2 separate regions of the Homo sapiens genome follow, and region 2 is linked to region 1. The links come from fine-mapping of genetic effects on gene expression. Tissue or cell type: whole blood. Region 1 holds a variant in brackets; the other region holds the start of a gene. All regions are shown on one strand. Distances are between the middles of the regions.

The links. PIP is the estimated chance that this variant, and not a neighbour inherited with it, causes the effect.
Region 2: it holds the start of POLR2C, and the variant in region 1 is fine-mapped to the expression of POLR2C in whole blood (TOPMed, PIP above 0.99).

Annotation. Positions count from the first base shown.
Region 1 is chr16:57,418,876-57,426,875 of GRCh38, reverse strand. No RefSeq gene overlaps it. Among named protein-coding and RNA genes, the nearest start is that of CCL17, 18 kb to the right of the region's middle. The variant T/C (reference allele first, on the strand shown) is at 4,090.
Region 2 is chr16:57,459,202-57,467,201 of GRCh38, reverse strand. POLR2C (RNA polymerase II subunit C) reads right to left here and starts at 4,523. Exons shown (of 9, transcript NM_032940.3): 1 at 4,392-4,523; 2 at 4,124-4,173; 3 at 1,181-1,249; 4 at 975-1,027. The coding sequence starts at 4,477. It overlaps COQ9 (coenzyme Q9), which reads right to left. Exons shown (of 9, transcript NM_020312.4): 7 at 7,482-7,637; 8 at 7,098-7,151; 9 at 5,932-6,613. The coding sequence ends at 6,578. RefSeq lists an enhancer at 4,371-4,665.

The sequences.
Region 1 (8,000 bases):
ATGTTAGCCAGGCTGGTCTCAAACTCCTGACCTTGTGATTCACCTGCCTCGGCCTCCCAAAGTGCTGGGATTATAGGTGTGAGCCACTGCCTGGTCCGATAGTAACATAATTATTAAGCTGCAGGGCCACTGTTGGTTGCTTCTGCTGCACTTGCCCATATGAAGGACAAAAATCTCAACCTCCATGTTGAGGACAAGAGATCCTGAGCCAGAGCTTCCTGGACAGGCCTAGCAAATGCCACAAGCCCTCGCCGATTCTTGCTCTGAGTCCCAGCTGTTGCTGGCAAAAAGGATACTGCCATCTCCTGTCTGCTGCAGTTGGCATAGTTAATGATTTTATGCCGGCAGTTGCCGTGTCACTCCACAGGGTCCGGGGCAAGCCAGCTAGCTCGGAGTCTGGGGCCCAGAGTGAGGGAAGAGTCCTTGCCAATCAGCAGGACACACCTGGGCCGGGGGCTCAGACACACCTGCACCTACACCTGCACCCAGTGAGGCAACAGCCAGACAGGCTAGAGGTTTCAGCGTTCAGCAAGCTCACAGTATTGGAGCCAACATGGGCTCTTATAATCACTGAATGCAACCTCATCTTACATCTGAGGAAAGGGTGAGACTGGGAGGGTAACCTGCTGCCATCATTCACCTGAGCACCTCTTAAAAGTACTGAGGCCTGGCCGGGTGTGGTGGCTCACGCCTGTAATCCCAGCACTTTGGGAGGCTGAGGTGGGCAGATCATGAGGTCAGGAGATTGAGACCCTCCTGGCTAACACAGTGAAACCCCATCTCTACTAAAAATACAAAAAATTAGCCGGGTGTGGTGGTGGGTGCCTTGTAGTCCCAGCTACTCGGGAGGCTGAGGCAGGAGAATCGCTTGGACCTGGGAGGCAGAGCTGGCAGTGAGCCGAGATCACACCACTGCACTCCAGCCTGGGAGACACAGCGAGACTCCGTCTCAAAAAAATAAAGTACTGAGGCCTGGCCCGGCACAGTGGCTCACACCTGTAATCCCAGCACTTTGGAAGGCCGAGGCAGGTGGATCACTTGAAGTCAGGAGTTCGAGACCAGCCTGGCCAACATGGTGAAACCCCACCTCTACTAAAAATACAAAAATTAGCCAGGTGTGGTGGTGCATGCCTGTAATCCCAGCTACTTTGGAGGCTGAGGCAGTTGAATCGCTTGAACCCAGGAGGCGGAGGTTGCAGTAAGGCAAGATGGTGCCATTGCCCTCCAGCCTGGGTGACAAGAGTGAAACTCCATCTCAAAAAAAAAAAAAAGTACTGAGGCCTGATGTCCTTGGATGTTCTGAGTCAGCCCAATGTGGACCGAGATGGGGCTGGGGGTGTAATATTTCTTCTTTTTTAGTTTTCTAAAGTCTCTAGCTTAGAACTTGGCAGTGTACATTTGGGACTTCCCCCTTCCGAAATCATTCAAAATCAGTAAATGGAGGGGACAGCAGAGACAAACCATTACCTTCCTTGGGGTTAGGAGGCAGCCAAAACAGAACCACAAAATACTTGGAAGGAGATGAGAGCAGAGGCTTTGGAGCCAGAGTGTGGACAGGAGAGAAGGGAGAGCAGATGAGGGTGCAAACCTGCTCCAGATGAAGATACCCCTGAGCTGCAGAATGGGCCCTCGTGTGTAACAGTGGGGTCCAAGGGCACAGGCAGGCAGTGGGGCTGAAGGGAGAACCCCACAGCGGAGCCTGGCATGCTGGAAGCACCCTGGTCTCTGCACTGGAGAAGAGAGACTGTGAACAGCCCAGCTGCCTGTCCTTGTGGCAGGGAGAAGGCTAAACAGAAACCTTACCAAGTATTGGTGAAAATGTGGCCGGGTGAGAACTCCCTGTTGGTAGGGATACTTTGGGCAATGTCACCCTCATGTCACTTTGAACACTGGCTGCATATTAGAATCACCTGGATAGCTTCCAAAAATAAACCAAAACAAAACAAAACAAAAGCCTATTCCTGGATTTCCTCTCCAAAACCCAATTCAGTCAGAATCCCTTGGAGTAGGGCCCAGGGCATCAGCATTTTTGCAAAGCTCTCCCAGGTCATTGTAGAGTGCAGCCAGGATTGAGAACCACTGCCCTAGAGAAATTCTTTGGCCCATGCACCAGGAGACAAGTATTCAAAGCAGCAGTACTTCTAAGAGACAATCCAAATGTCCATTAACAAGAGCGTGAATGAATGAGCTGTGCGTCCAAGCAGTGGAACACTGCACAGCAGTGATGAGCTATAGCTGTGCACTTCAACATGGAAGAATCACGAAGCAACAGAAGCCACAAAAGCAAGTCACAGAAGTGTGTGTGTGTGTGTGTGTGTGTGAGAAATATTTCATTTACATAAAGTTCAAAAACATGCCAGATGCATCAGCCTGTCATTAAGGATATACACATACATATGTGCATATACATGATGTATACACACATGTATGTGTGTGACAAAACTAATAAAGAGCTCAAGGGGAATGATATAATTCAGGACCACAGTTGGCTCCAAAGGGAGACGGGAGAAAGAGGCAGGACTTCATCAGCAGGAAAGTTCTATTTCTTTAGGCTGGACGGTGGGTATACAAGTGTTTATTTTTATGTGTTTGTATACCTGCTATATACATGATGGATTTGTATTTCTTCTTCTTTTTTTTTTTTTTTTTTTTTTTTGAGACAGAGTCTCGCTCTGTCGCCCAGGTCGGACTGCGGACTGCAGTGGCGCAATCTCGGCTCACTGCAAGCTCCGCTTCCCGGGTTCACGCCATTCTCCTGCCTCAGCCTCCCGAGTAGCTGGGACTACAGGCGCCCGCCACCGCGCCCGGCTAATTTTTTGTATTTTTTAGTAGAGACGGGGTTTCACCATGTTAGCCAGGCTGGTCTTGAACTCCTGACCTCAGGTGATCCACTCGCCTCAGCCTCCCAAAGTGCTGGGATTAACAGGCGTGAGCCACCACGCCCGACCAGTGGATTTGTATTTCTAAGAAACTTCATTGAAAAAACCTGAAAACCTCTCACATGAAACCCTGGGTCTTAAGAAGAATACTGCTAGCCCAGGACAAAGTCCTGCTTCTCCCCGACACGAACCTCTGTGGAACACTTGACCCCGTTATCATCTCATGCAAAATTTTTAAAGTGGAACTAGTACGGCATCTATATATATAAAGCTGCCTCAGAATAATAGTAACAGAGGGAGAAGGTTGTCACAGAGCAGGTGAATACTGTTTGTGACCAAAATTTTTGCTACAAATTACACAAATGTATAAAATAGCTTTGTGCTAAGTAGGGGTGGGGATGGGGCAGCTCTTGGGTGGCTCTTACTTCACCCCTCTCGGGGAAAGCAGGGACAGAAGCCCCCACTCAGCCCTCAGTGACTTCAGATCTCACCTTCAGTGGTCACTCCTGGTGGTCAAGCTGGTGGTCTGGTCATTGGTTACCCGTGGCCCACCATCCAGCATGAGGCTTTCACCTCTGCAAACCTCTGTGCTGATCTGGAGACTGCGTTCAGACTCAGCTGGGTTAGAATGCTCCTTTCTTTCCTTCCTTCTTTCCTCCCTTCCTTCCCCTCCCTCACTCCTTCCCTCTCTTCCTTCCTTCCCCTCCTTCCCTCCCTCCCTTCCCCTCCCTCACTCCTTCCCTCTCTTCCTTCCTTCCCCTCCTTCCCTCCCTCCCTCCTTCATTGCTTCCCCTCCCTCCCTTCCTCCCCCTCCCTCCCTCCCTTCCCTCCCACCATCCATCCTTCCTTCCTTCTCCTCTTCCCTTCCTTCCCCTTTCTTCCTTTTCCTTCCTTCCCTTCCTTCCTTCCTCTCTCCATCCCTTCCCCTCCCTCCCTCCCTTTCCTCCTTCCTCCCTCCCTCCCTCCCTTCCTTCCTCCCTCCCTCCCTTCCTTCCTTTCCTCCTTCCTTCCTTCCTTTTTGATTTTCTATTATTACTTAAACATTTTTTCTCTTAAATCATGAAAGATTTCAAATACAGAGAATTTCCAATAGACAACTAGCTTTGCTGTGTGTGATTCTGATCACTCCTTTTTTTCGTACACAAGTGATACAGCAGTGGCAAAATCCCTTCGCTGTCCTCCCAGAGGACTCCTTTGTCCTGAGCTGATA[T/C]ATGTCTCATCCAAGCCTGCTACTCTACAGAAAAGTGAATATTGAATATGTCTTTTTTATGAAATTCACATAACATAAAATGAACGATTTAAAATAAACAATTCAGCAGCATTTGGTACATTCACAGTGTGGTGCAACCACCACCTCTATCTAGTTCCAAAATGTTTTCATTGCCCTGAAAGGAAACCCCATCCCCAGTAAGCAGTCCCTTCCGGTCTTCCTCTCCCACCATCTCTGGTCACCACCAGTGGGCGTTCTGACTCCATGGAGTTACTTCTGACATTTCATATGAATGAAATTATACACTGTGTGACCTTCTGCGTTTGGCTTCTTTAGCTTAACAGAGTGTTTCGAGCTTCACCCATATCGTAGGGCGTATCCATGCAGAAAAATCTTCCTTATATGGTTAGACCACTTTTGTTTATCCATTCAGCTGTTGATAGGCCTTGGGCTGTTTCCAGCTTTGTGCTGTAGTAAATATCCCACCATGAACATGTATGTGCAAGGACTTAACAAGTCCTTTGAAAGCTGATTTTTGGCTGTGACAGTTTCTCAGACTTTCCTTGTTTTGGATGAGCTTGATCATTTTGAGGAGTACTGGTCAGGGTTGGTTGGTTGGTTTGTTTTGAGACAGAGTCTCACTCTGTTGCCCAGGCTGGAGTGCAGTGGACTGATCTGGGCTCACTGCAGCCTCTACCTCCCAGGTTCAAGCAATCCCCCTGCCTCGGCCTCCCAAGTAGCTGGGATTACAGGCATGCACCACCATGCCCAGCTAATTTTTGTATTTTTAGTACTGTCAGAGTTTCACCCTGTTGGCCAGGCTGGTCTTGAACTCCTGACCTCAAGTGATCCGCCTGCCTCGGCCCCTCAAAGTGCTGGGATTACAGGTGTGAGCCACCATGCTTGGCTGAAGGCTGGCTTCTTAAAGCCCTGATCCCTTTGCTCGTCTGAGTATTTCACCCCCGTGGTTGCCATGCTGGCTTTGGAGAAGGGCACAGGGAATATCCAGGTGATGGCAGTTCAATTATGAGGAAATGGCAGGTTTTCTTTTCTTTCTTTTCTTTTCTTTTTCTTTTTTTTTTTTTTGAGACAGAGTCTCACTCTCACTCTGTCACCCAGGCTGGAGTGCAATGGCGTGATCTCGGCTCACTGCAACCTCTGCCTCCCGAGTTCAAGTGATTCTCCTGCCTCAGCCTCCCGAGTAGCTGGGATTACAGGCACGCGCCACCATGCCTGGCTAATTTTTGTATTTTTAGTAGAGACGGGGTTTCACCATGTTGGTCACACTGGTCTCGATCGCTTGACCTCATGATTGTGAGCCACTGCGTCCGACCAGAAACGGCAGGTTTTCTAAGACTGTGGTCCGCTAAGGGCGATGTGAGAGGTAGAGGAGTAGCCATATTGGCACATCCCCAAACAGGTGAGAGAAGGTCCAGTTCCATTGCTTCATGGAGAAATAGGCTCAGGCAGGTGAGGCTCAGGCAGGTGAGGCGCATGTGTCCAGGTCCGACGGCCAGTCAGTGGCAAAGCAGAGACTCCAAACAGGTCCCTGACCCTTTGTGTTAAAATGTACTTTCGAAGATAAACTTTTTTTAGCTCCCACATATGAGTGAGAACATGAGATATTTGTCTTTCTGTGCCTGGCTTATTTCACTTAACATAATGACTGTCCATCCATTTTGCTGCAAATGACAGGATTTCCTTCTTTTTTTATGGCTGAATCGTACTCTGTTGTGTACATGTACCAAATTTATTTATTTATTACTCCATTGATGGACACGGGTTGATTTCATATTTTGGCTATTGTGAATAGTGCTGCAATAAACATGGGGGTGCAGGTATCCCTTTGATATATTGATTTCCTTTCCTTTGGATAAATACCCAGTAGTAGGATTGCTGGATCATATGGTAGTTCTATTTAGGGGAGAGGGGTGATGGGGAGAGATTGGTTAATGGGTACAAACAAACAGCTGGATAGAAGGAATAATTTCCAGTGTTCGATTGCACAGTAGGGTGACTATAGTAAACAATTTATTGTGTATTTCTTTTTTCTTTCTTTCTTTTCTTCCTTCCTTCCTTCCTTCCTTTCTTTTTCTTTCTTTCTTTCTTTCTTTGAGATGGAGTTTCACTCTTATCGCCCAGGCTGGAGTGCAATGGTGCAATCTTGGCTCACTGCAACCTCTCCCGGGTTCAAGCGATTCTCCTGCCTCAGCCTCCCGAGTAGCTAGGATTACAGGTGCCAGCCACCACATCCAGCTAATTTTTTTGTATTTTTAGTAAAGATGGGGTTTCATCATGTTGGCCAAGCTGGTCTAGAACTCCTGACCTCAGGTGATCTACCTACTTTGGCCTCCCAAAGTGCTAGGATTACAGGCGTGAGCCACCATGCCCAGCCTTTTTTTTCTTTTTGAGACAGGGTCTCCCTCTGTAACCCCGGCTGGAGTGCAGTGGCACCATCACAGTTCACTGCAGCCTTGACCTGCTGTGCTCAAGTGATCCTCCCACCTCAGCCTCCTGAGTAGCTGGCAGCACAGGCGCATGCTACCATGCCTGGCTAATTTGTGCATTTCGTAAAGACTGAGTCTCACTATGTTGCCCAGACTGGTCTCAGACTCCTGGGCTCAAGTGATCCTCCCACCTTGGCCTCCCAGAGTGCTGGGATTACAGGTGTGAGCCACTATGCCCAGCCTATTGTATATTTCAAAATAGCTAGAAGAGAAGATTTGAAACGTTCCCAACACAGTGAAATGATAAATGTTCGAGGTGATGGATATCCTGATTACCTTGATCTGATCACTATGCATTGTATGCTTGTGTCACAGTATCATATGTATCCCATAAATATGTACAATTACTATGCATCAATTTAAAAAATTTAAAATGTACCCCCAGGATTTGAATTGATGGAGGTGACTGAGTGACAACACAGAGCGACCAAGGACACTGAAAGAATTCATCACTTGCATCTCCCAGGAGAACAGGGCATGGCACACACGCAGGACCACACACGGGGCCACAGGGGGAGCACCAAGTTTGGTCAGGAGGCTGAAAGGAAGGATCAGAACAGCACAGGCCACAGCCTTTTGTGGGGTTTCCACCCGAAGTGCAAGGCAGGCCAGGGGAAGCAGCCCGGGTCTGGCTAGTTGGAATAATTCCAGGGGGCCTTGGGCTTAGGGGCCGTCCCTAGTTGTCTCTACCTGGCTCTGGGTGATTTAGGGCAGGGGAAATACTGGCTTGGTGTGAGAGTTAAATAGAGATGGTTGGGGGGCCTGTGATTGGGATTGGTTGGAGGGTTTGTAACTATTATTACTTTCAAACACTTGCAAAAACCAGCTTGCAGGGGAGGTATAAATGCTTTTGGCCCTGTGATTTGGCCCTGTGATAAATGGATGCCAAATAGACCAAATACAGTCTCTAAGAAAACACAGTGAAACACCCCAGCCCACAGCTCTTGGCACTGCCCAGGTTGCGTCTGGAGTTAGTGGCCCTGCTAGTCCCAGCAGGGTTTCTTCCTTCTTCCTCTTCATCCAGCAAACCCCAGACAGTGTAATTGGCGGTTTCTTTGCTTCTGTTCCCACAAGAGGAGAGCCGGCCAGCTACAGACACCCCTGCCCCAAGGCCTAGTGCAGCTACAACCAGATGTGGCTGATCCCAGCCCCTGGGGACAGCGATGGGGCCGGAGTCTGGCTGGTGGGGTCAGGGCCCCTGGCGCATCAGCCTCAGAACTTCCTCCTAAGAGCAGAGTGCCCTCTGGTGGGCCACTGGAAAACAACCCAATTCTAATTTCCACGTTTGGAGATGCAATATGCTTCAAGCCGGGTTATTAGGGCTCCCCAGGAAATTTCTCTTTCCCCACTAGTGCCCCTTGTGGAATTCACCTGAGCAGCACTGATGAAAATGTATAAATCAAA
Region 2 (8,000 bases), 40 kb before region 1:
GAGTGCAGTGGCGCAATCTCGGCTCACTGCAAGCTCCGCCTCCCGGGTTCATGCCATTCTCCTGCCTCAGCCTCCCGAGTAGCTGGGACTACTTGGGAGCGGGACCACGCTCGGCTAATATTTTGTATTTTTAGTAGAGACAGGGTTTCACCGTGTCAGCCAGGATGGTCTCGATCTCCTGACCTCGTGATAAACCCGCCTCGGCCTCCCAAAGTGCTGGGATTACAGGTGTGAGCCACTGCATCCAGCTGAATATTTCTTTTTTAAAAATACACACATATTTATAAGATATATCAAATTAGCCATCACAAAAATGACATGGCCCTTGAGAATATTAGAAAATGGACTGATTCTGGATCACCCAAAGCCATCAAGAGGGAGTAGCCTTAAGCTGCTGTGTAATGCAGCCTAGTGAAAGGATGAAGGTAACCGACTCCTATCCTACTCTCTCCAAACTCTGAAGGCCTGTTAACATGCCATCAGGGAGCAAACACGACCAGGAGGAAGGGGGTGAGACACTAAGAGTGTGGCCATGTTTAAGCAGCATCACCTGCGAGGGAGGGGACAGCATGAATCTGCAGACACCAGGACTAGTCCCCCAGGAGCTGCTCTTGTGAGACAGCTCCCATTCCCTCTGCTCCTTGCCTACCCCAACCTTCTGTTGACTCCTGTAGCATCCTAAGGCCCCTGCTACTGGGAAGAGATGCTTTGGAAGGAAGAACCTCCACTCTAAGTATAAATGGGCACTGTGGTGGAGCTGCCTAACAACACTCCCTGATGTTCTGCGTGCTAATCAATCTGAAGCCCCATCAGAACGCAGGACCAAGGCCTGCCCAGGCTCTAGACAACATCTCCACGTTGTTGTTCCAGAACTACAACAGTATTCAAGCTGGATGCCAAATGTCAGGAAAAATCCCTTTGAGAACCAAAGCCTCCCCACCAAACCTCACATTCCACCCAATCACACAACATACCCGAGAGTACTGCAGCTTGTCCACAATGTCATCACTAATGAGGGGAATTAATCCTGTAAAAAACAGAAAAGCACTTTAAAGAAAACCAAACAGCCAAGCCAAAATGAGAACCCAGAAGCCTTCTGGGGGTGAGGCTGGAAGGAGGCCCCCTCCTGACACTAGGCACAATACCCTCCCTTTAACCTCCTAGTAAAAGGAGTACTCACCAAGCCTGTGAGCAATGAATTCATCATGAAGAACTGAGGAATTGGCATCAATCTGAACCCAGTCAATGGCTAAAAAATGAAAGAAGCAGACATGGAGTTTAGCCATCAAATTTACCTACAGACTTAATGCAGTGGTTCTCAAGATTTAGGAATCACCTGACACTAAACTGCAGATTGCTGGGCTGATTCCACAGCATTAGAGTGGGGCCCAGGTACTTGCATTTTAATAAGACCCACACACACCACACCTCACCTCCCTGCCCAGGTGAATTTAATGCAGGGGGCTCCCTGCTTCACAGAAAACACTGACTTATAGAATATCATAGAAGTGGAAACATGTTTATTTGAGCTGAGTATTTGCATGAGAAGCACTTAAATCTGCTACCTGTGCCACCACTAAATCCAAGAACATGAACTATTTGAGCACTTCAAAGTCAGGGAAACCCTCACAGAAGCAACACAGACTTATGGGGCCATACCTCATTTTAGGATATAATGACTGGACTGCCCAACTTAGCACTTTTTAAACACTCAATCAACAAATGTTTACTGAATTCTTTTAATGCGCAAAGTATACTAAATATAGAACCCAATCCCTAGCAGCAATGAGCTCGTAGGAGGGTAAAGACTGTATTATCGATCACACATGCTTGACTTAAACACACATTTATTCATTCATAAACATTTGCATGGAACCAACTAAATCCAGGAATCAAATGGCACTGGAGCCCAACTGCCAAACGAGGGACACAGACACTAGGAACAGCGGTCGGAAGAGGACCTCCCCCTGCCAGGCCTCCACCTGCTCTGTCCTGCTATGCTTCCCATTGCTTCCCCAGTCCAAGCCAACTGAGAGAACCCTGACCCAAGCTTTTCTGCCTCTTTAATCCCCCAGCCCTTCCCTCCAGCACACCCTTCCCCTCCTTGCTGTACAGGTTAAGATCCTCTGTGCCTCCTGAAAACTAAGCCTTGCCTGCTCTCTATGCTACAGATGTGACATTCCCTCCCTTTCAACTCCTCTCTCACAAAACTCTGTTCAGACTTCCCTCAAGACACTTGTCATAGTGTGCCTTGTGTCATATTTGTGTATGTTATGTCTATACCTCAAGCTTCAGAAATTCCTTCACGCAGGTCCTGGGATGTCTTTGTATTCCTAGCATGGGTGCTCAATATTATTTGTAGAACTGAATTTGTTGGGAAAGAGGCATTTAGACTCAGAATGGCAGGGCTGCATCATGAAGTACAACTCCCTCACCTGACTCCTGATGAAACTGAGGTCCAGAGGCATGAAGTGCTTAGGCAGGGGGAGGTCCAGCACTCCAAGCTGAATTTAAGAAGTGACTGGGGGGCGGGGGGGTGGGGTGGTGGTGGTAGTGGATAAACTACAATGTTCTCTTGCCTAATCATTTGGCCTGCTTATTTCCTTAAAAGTCTGAATATTTGATGCCACAGCTATGACTTATATTTATTTTGCCTAATCCAAACTCTCTGAGCTGACTCTCAGAAATGCTTGAAGTATTTCATACAAGTATAATCAATGCATTAAGCACCTGGAGCAGAGTGGCTGGAACCAGACCAGAAATTGATCTTCCCTCCTCTAAGAGCCAAGTGCACCACAGCTATGCTTCTCCTGAACTACTGATCAAAATCTACCTTGCTTTAGTGTTGTCTGTGGATTCATCTCTCCCCTACAACCTCACTGTGGACTCCATGAGGGCAAAAACCCTGTTCTCTACAGCTTTGCATTCCCAGAGCTTACCACCATGCCTGCCACTTTCATGCTCCATAAATGCTGTTGAAGGAATAGATTAATAAAAAAGCCATCTACCAGCACTGAGCACTCACTAAACACAAAGCACTTATATGGATTACCTCACTTAATCCTTAACATTACCCTGATAAGGATCATTAGTGGCCGAATGTTACAGATGAGGAAACTGCAGCACACAGAAGTTTAATAACTTGCCCAAGTTTCACAAAAGCAGTAAGTGATGCAGCCATAAGAACGAACGAAATCATGTCCTCTGCAGCAACATGGACGTGGCTGGAAGCCACTATCTTCTTTTTTATTTTCTTTTGTTTGAGAAGGAGTCTCACTCTATTGCCCAGGCCAGAGTGCAGTGGCATGATCTCGGCTCACTGCAACCTCCACCTTCTGGGTTCAATCAATTCTGCCTCAGCCTCCCCAGTAGCTGGGATTACAGGTGGGAGCCACCACACCTGGCTAATTTTTGCATTTTTAGTAGAGGCGGGCTTTCCCCATGTTGGCCAGGCTGGTCTCAAACTCCTGGCCTCAGGTGTTCCTCAGTCTTGGCCTCCCAAAGTGCTGGAATTACAGGCGCGAGCGCGGCCTGGAAGCCATTATCCTAAGAGAATTAACACAGGAACAGAAAACCAAACACCGCATGGGAGCTAAAACTGGGTACGCACGGACATAAAGATGACAATAAACACACTGGTGACTACTAGAGCTGGAAGGGAGGCAGTGGGGCTAGGGGTGAAAAACTACCTATTGCGTACTATGCTCACTACCTGGGTGAAAGGATCATTTATACCCCAAATCTCAGCATCACGCACTATACCCAGGCAACAAACCTGCACCAATGTACCCCTTGACTCCAAAATAAAAGTTGAAAACATTTTAAAAACTTTTGTAACAATAGTAGTGAAAACAGTATTTGAACCCAAGTCTGCACACTGCTAAACCCATGCTTCTCAGCAATGCATACCCAGGACAAGGGTGGACCTAAGTGGCCCGTGGGCGCCAGGGAGGCGGCCACTGAGCCAAGGGCACAGGGTATGGTCAAGTCTCCAGCAATGCACTTTTCTCAGCACTACCACCCTCAGCCCGAACCAAGGACTGGAAGGAGCCCCAAAGAGTGTGTGGGTGGAGAGCGGGGCAGGAACCCGTGGGCGCGGGAACGAGGAAGGGGAGTCGCTTACCTATTATGGGAACCTCAGCGATGAAGACCCTCCGAATCGAATTGGCCACCCTGAAAGATCAAAAGCCAAGGGGCGTGAAGGCGCTGCAGCCTCGACAGGCTGGGCCCGCGCCGCAGGCTCCCAAAGCTAAAGCCCTGGTGCAGGGGGGCAGCTCTGGAAGGACATCGCCCCCACCCCACCCCACTACACCCCCGCCCCCTGCCCCGGGGCCCCGGCTTGGGCCTCCCGGCGCCCCAGAGCCGCCAGCCTCTTCCCTCGGTAGCCTTACGCCAGGTCGGTGTTCTCGATGATGAACTTGACATTCTCGTCAGTGAGCTCCGTGATCCGCACGGTAGGCTGGTTGGCGTACGGCATCTCGCCCAGGGGCCACCAGCCTCCGCGTCTGCTCCGCGGTGACTGCGCGGCGCCACCGCCAACACCGGAAGTCAGTCAGCGAGGCCTCCGCGGCTTCCGCAAAGACGACTCACAGCGCCGCCTGCTGCTCGGAGGCCAGAACTGCCGAGCGTCTTCTGCGGCCTCCTGCTTTAAAATGTACCAGATTCAGCTATCTCGGAGGGTAGTTTGGCAAAACACGCATACGTCCTTCACTTAACAGTAACACTTCTAAGAATTCATACTGCAGAAACACTTGCAGTTGTAAACAAAGATACGAGTGCAGGGACGTTCGTGGTAGTACTGTTTGTACTGTCCATTGATAAGAGACCTGGTGGAGTATACACACATGGAATACTATGAAGCACTTAAAAAGAACTTGTACATCTATAGAAAAACAAAAGTATATTTTAATATGAATGTATATTTTAGCAAAGTATACCTGAATTATAAGTAAATACCCTTTCCCTTGCAGTCTCAAGTATGGACCATGCACTTCTGAAAACTTCAGGAAAAGATACAATGTTCTTTAACCTAATGCTTCCTCTACAGTCTGTGTAGCTGTGGTGGGTGAGTGGGAACTCTTTGTCTCTGCATCCCCAGTGCCTGGCAGTGGGCACCATGTGGGGTGCATGCTCAACAAAGAACTACTGAAGTCCCCTAAACAGACTGGAGAGAGGTTTAAATGGGCCTCAAAAAAAGTGGCTGCTGCTCCAACAGAGAAAAGCTCTAAAATAGAACGTGGCAGGAAATACATTTAAGAGTTGGGAGAAGAGTAACCAGATAAAGAGGAGTTTGCCTTTGCAAAGAGTGACACCTCTTCCTGAAACAGAGGGTGGGCACTGATGGAACCCTGCTCCATAACCTGTGTCATCTTGGTAAATTAAGAATTATGGTTGTCTGCTGAGTGTAAGATGGATGCTATGAAGGAAAAAGGAGAATGCAATGAAAACTGGAACAGCTACTGCGAAAACTTCACAGGATGTCAAGAGATACAAGGAATTGAGAGGTGCAAAAAAGATCCAGTGGAAGACCCACAAGAGATCTGAAATTCAATTAGTTGCTGACTTTCCCCCATTAATATTCAGCTGACAGGCAGAAGAGAGCAAAGCAGAAAACAGAGCTAACCAGACGTGCAAAGGGAACCCAGCCAGTGTAGAGGCTGAGAAAATTACTGGGGCTAAAGAATGTACCACTAAAATCGTCAGACAAGAGCAGCCAAGGGAGCTGATGGTCTGTGGGAAGGCTTCTGTTACCCGTATTTTACTGATGGGAAGACTTGAGCCCAGAGACGCAGAGGTACTATAATTACCACTATGTATTAGGCAGTGGCAGCGCCAGAACACAGGTCTCCTGGCTGCCATAACTTAACCTGTCTCCCTCTGGGGTCCTGGATACCTATCATGATTGATAAGGAAACTAACTACACAATGGGAAACTACTTCAAACATATTTATTATTTTTACAGACTCAAAATACACTAATAATCCTGCAATGCATGCTGGTGTCATGTGACACCAGGCCTGGAATCACACCTCTGTCCAGCAGGCACTTGTCTCAGGTGAGGCAGTTTTCTGAGGGGGCTCCCAGGAACAGCATCTCAGGACACCTGAGAGGGAGGGGGCTGCAAGGAACACCTCTGTGTGCACACGCCTGTGCTGTGCTGGAGATGAGCTGTCACCTTGAGGTGGCGTCAGACCTTGACTCTGGCTTGGGAGCCCCAAGGTTAAGGGAAGGTTAAGACATGATCAAGGTGCCCATGAGATTGTGACAGGGACATGCTGGGTTTCTGTGGCTTGACTGCTTGGATGAACATCTCATTTTTCAATCACACAGTTGCAGTGCAGAAAGGCATCAGGAGGCTTGGTCTGGTATTAGGAACTGAAGAAGCAGCCCAATCCCTGACCAGAACGGTAGCATCAAATGCCTTGTGGTTTCCAGGTGGCTGTGGTAGTGACTCAGGAGTCCTTTAGTGTGTTCTCGTGAACACCAGGTTATGTGGATGGCACCTTATACTTTTCAAAGCTCTTTCAATCTGTCCGCTCATTCTCTTCTAGGCATTGTAGCTTATACCCCTTCCTCTCACCGACGCTGGTTTAGACCTGTCAAGTTCTTGAGCTGACACGGGAATGGAAATAAAGAGAATAGTGAGGGCTTACCTTGCCTCTAGACTCTAATAGAAAAGACCTAGCTTTTCTTTTTCTCTTTTTTTTTTTCTTTTTTGCATAGAGACAGGGTTTTGCTATGTTGGCCAGACTGTCCTCAAACTCCTGGGCTCAAGCGATCTTCCCAAATCGCTGAGATGATATGCATGAGCCACTGCACCTGGCCAAGATCCAGGTTTGCAAGGTGGCAGGTGTGGCTATGATACAGAGACTTGATATACCAGGGTCCCAGGAGTCAGTGATATCTCCTGATGACAGGAAAAAATAAAGAAGTGAGGTTTTTGGAATCAAGACACTAGGGCTGAACCATTGTCAGCCTTATTATTAGATTATTGTTTCCAGGTTAGGGCTACAAAATGATGTGAAGTCAGTAACACATGTATCACAGAGCCGGAATGGGAGAGAGGAGGGGCAGGGATGTGCTGGGCAGTACTCACCGTCACTGCTGCACCCATGAGTCCTTGCACCAGTGCCTCTCCTGTGGACTTTACCTAGAAGGAGTCAGTGTCAGGTTCCCTTAGGCCACCAACACAAAGTTAAACTTGAGACAGGCAGGACAAATCAGGAGGCCTATGAGCCCCAAAAGGTGAAGACAAGGGGGCCACGTTACTGGAAGGAGAGCTTTGGACAACACAATCACAAATGCAAATGAGCAAAGTGTGGCTCTTAGGGAAGGGCTGGCCTGAGGAAGAACCAGCCAGGCCCTTGGGAAGGCCCTCAGGACTGTCAGCTGAGGCCAAAAGGGAGCAAGACCAGCTGTGACCTGAGGAGAATAGGTATGCCTTCTAAAGAGGGTTCCCCAATGGCTAGTCCCCACCTACCTGCTTGGCAGTGTGGCCCATGTTCATTGCATCATTAACCCGGTTTTCCAGGAAGCGCCAAGTGTCCTCAAAGTCTGGAGAGGAGTCCTGCATCATCACCAGCTCTGTTGTGTTGTAGATGGCAGCCAGCATGGCTCGGCGGGTGTACCAGTTAAACTGTAAAGAAACCCACACTACCGCTGTGGGCTGGTGCAAGTCTGAGGCAGTTCCTACCCAAGGCCATGGGAACTCCTGGGTTCCCTCTTGACTACTTCTTGACTGTCACAGATACATCTGGCCCTCTGGACAACACTACCATCTCAAACTTGACTGAGCATCAGAATTACCTACTTGATTAAAAATGCAAGCTCCTGGGCCCAACCTCTTAAGAGTAGAGTCAATGGATCTAAATAAAGTGCCAGGAATCAGGAAACTTAATAAGTATCCCAGATGATTTGGCTACATCCAATCCATTTTGGAACTGCTAGTAGAAAGCCTACATCTTAAGACATCTGAGTCCCAGAAGACGCTGTAATCAGC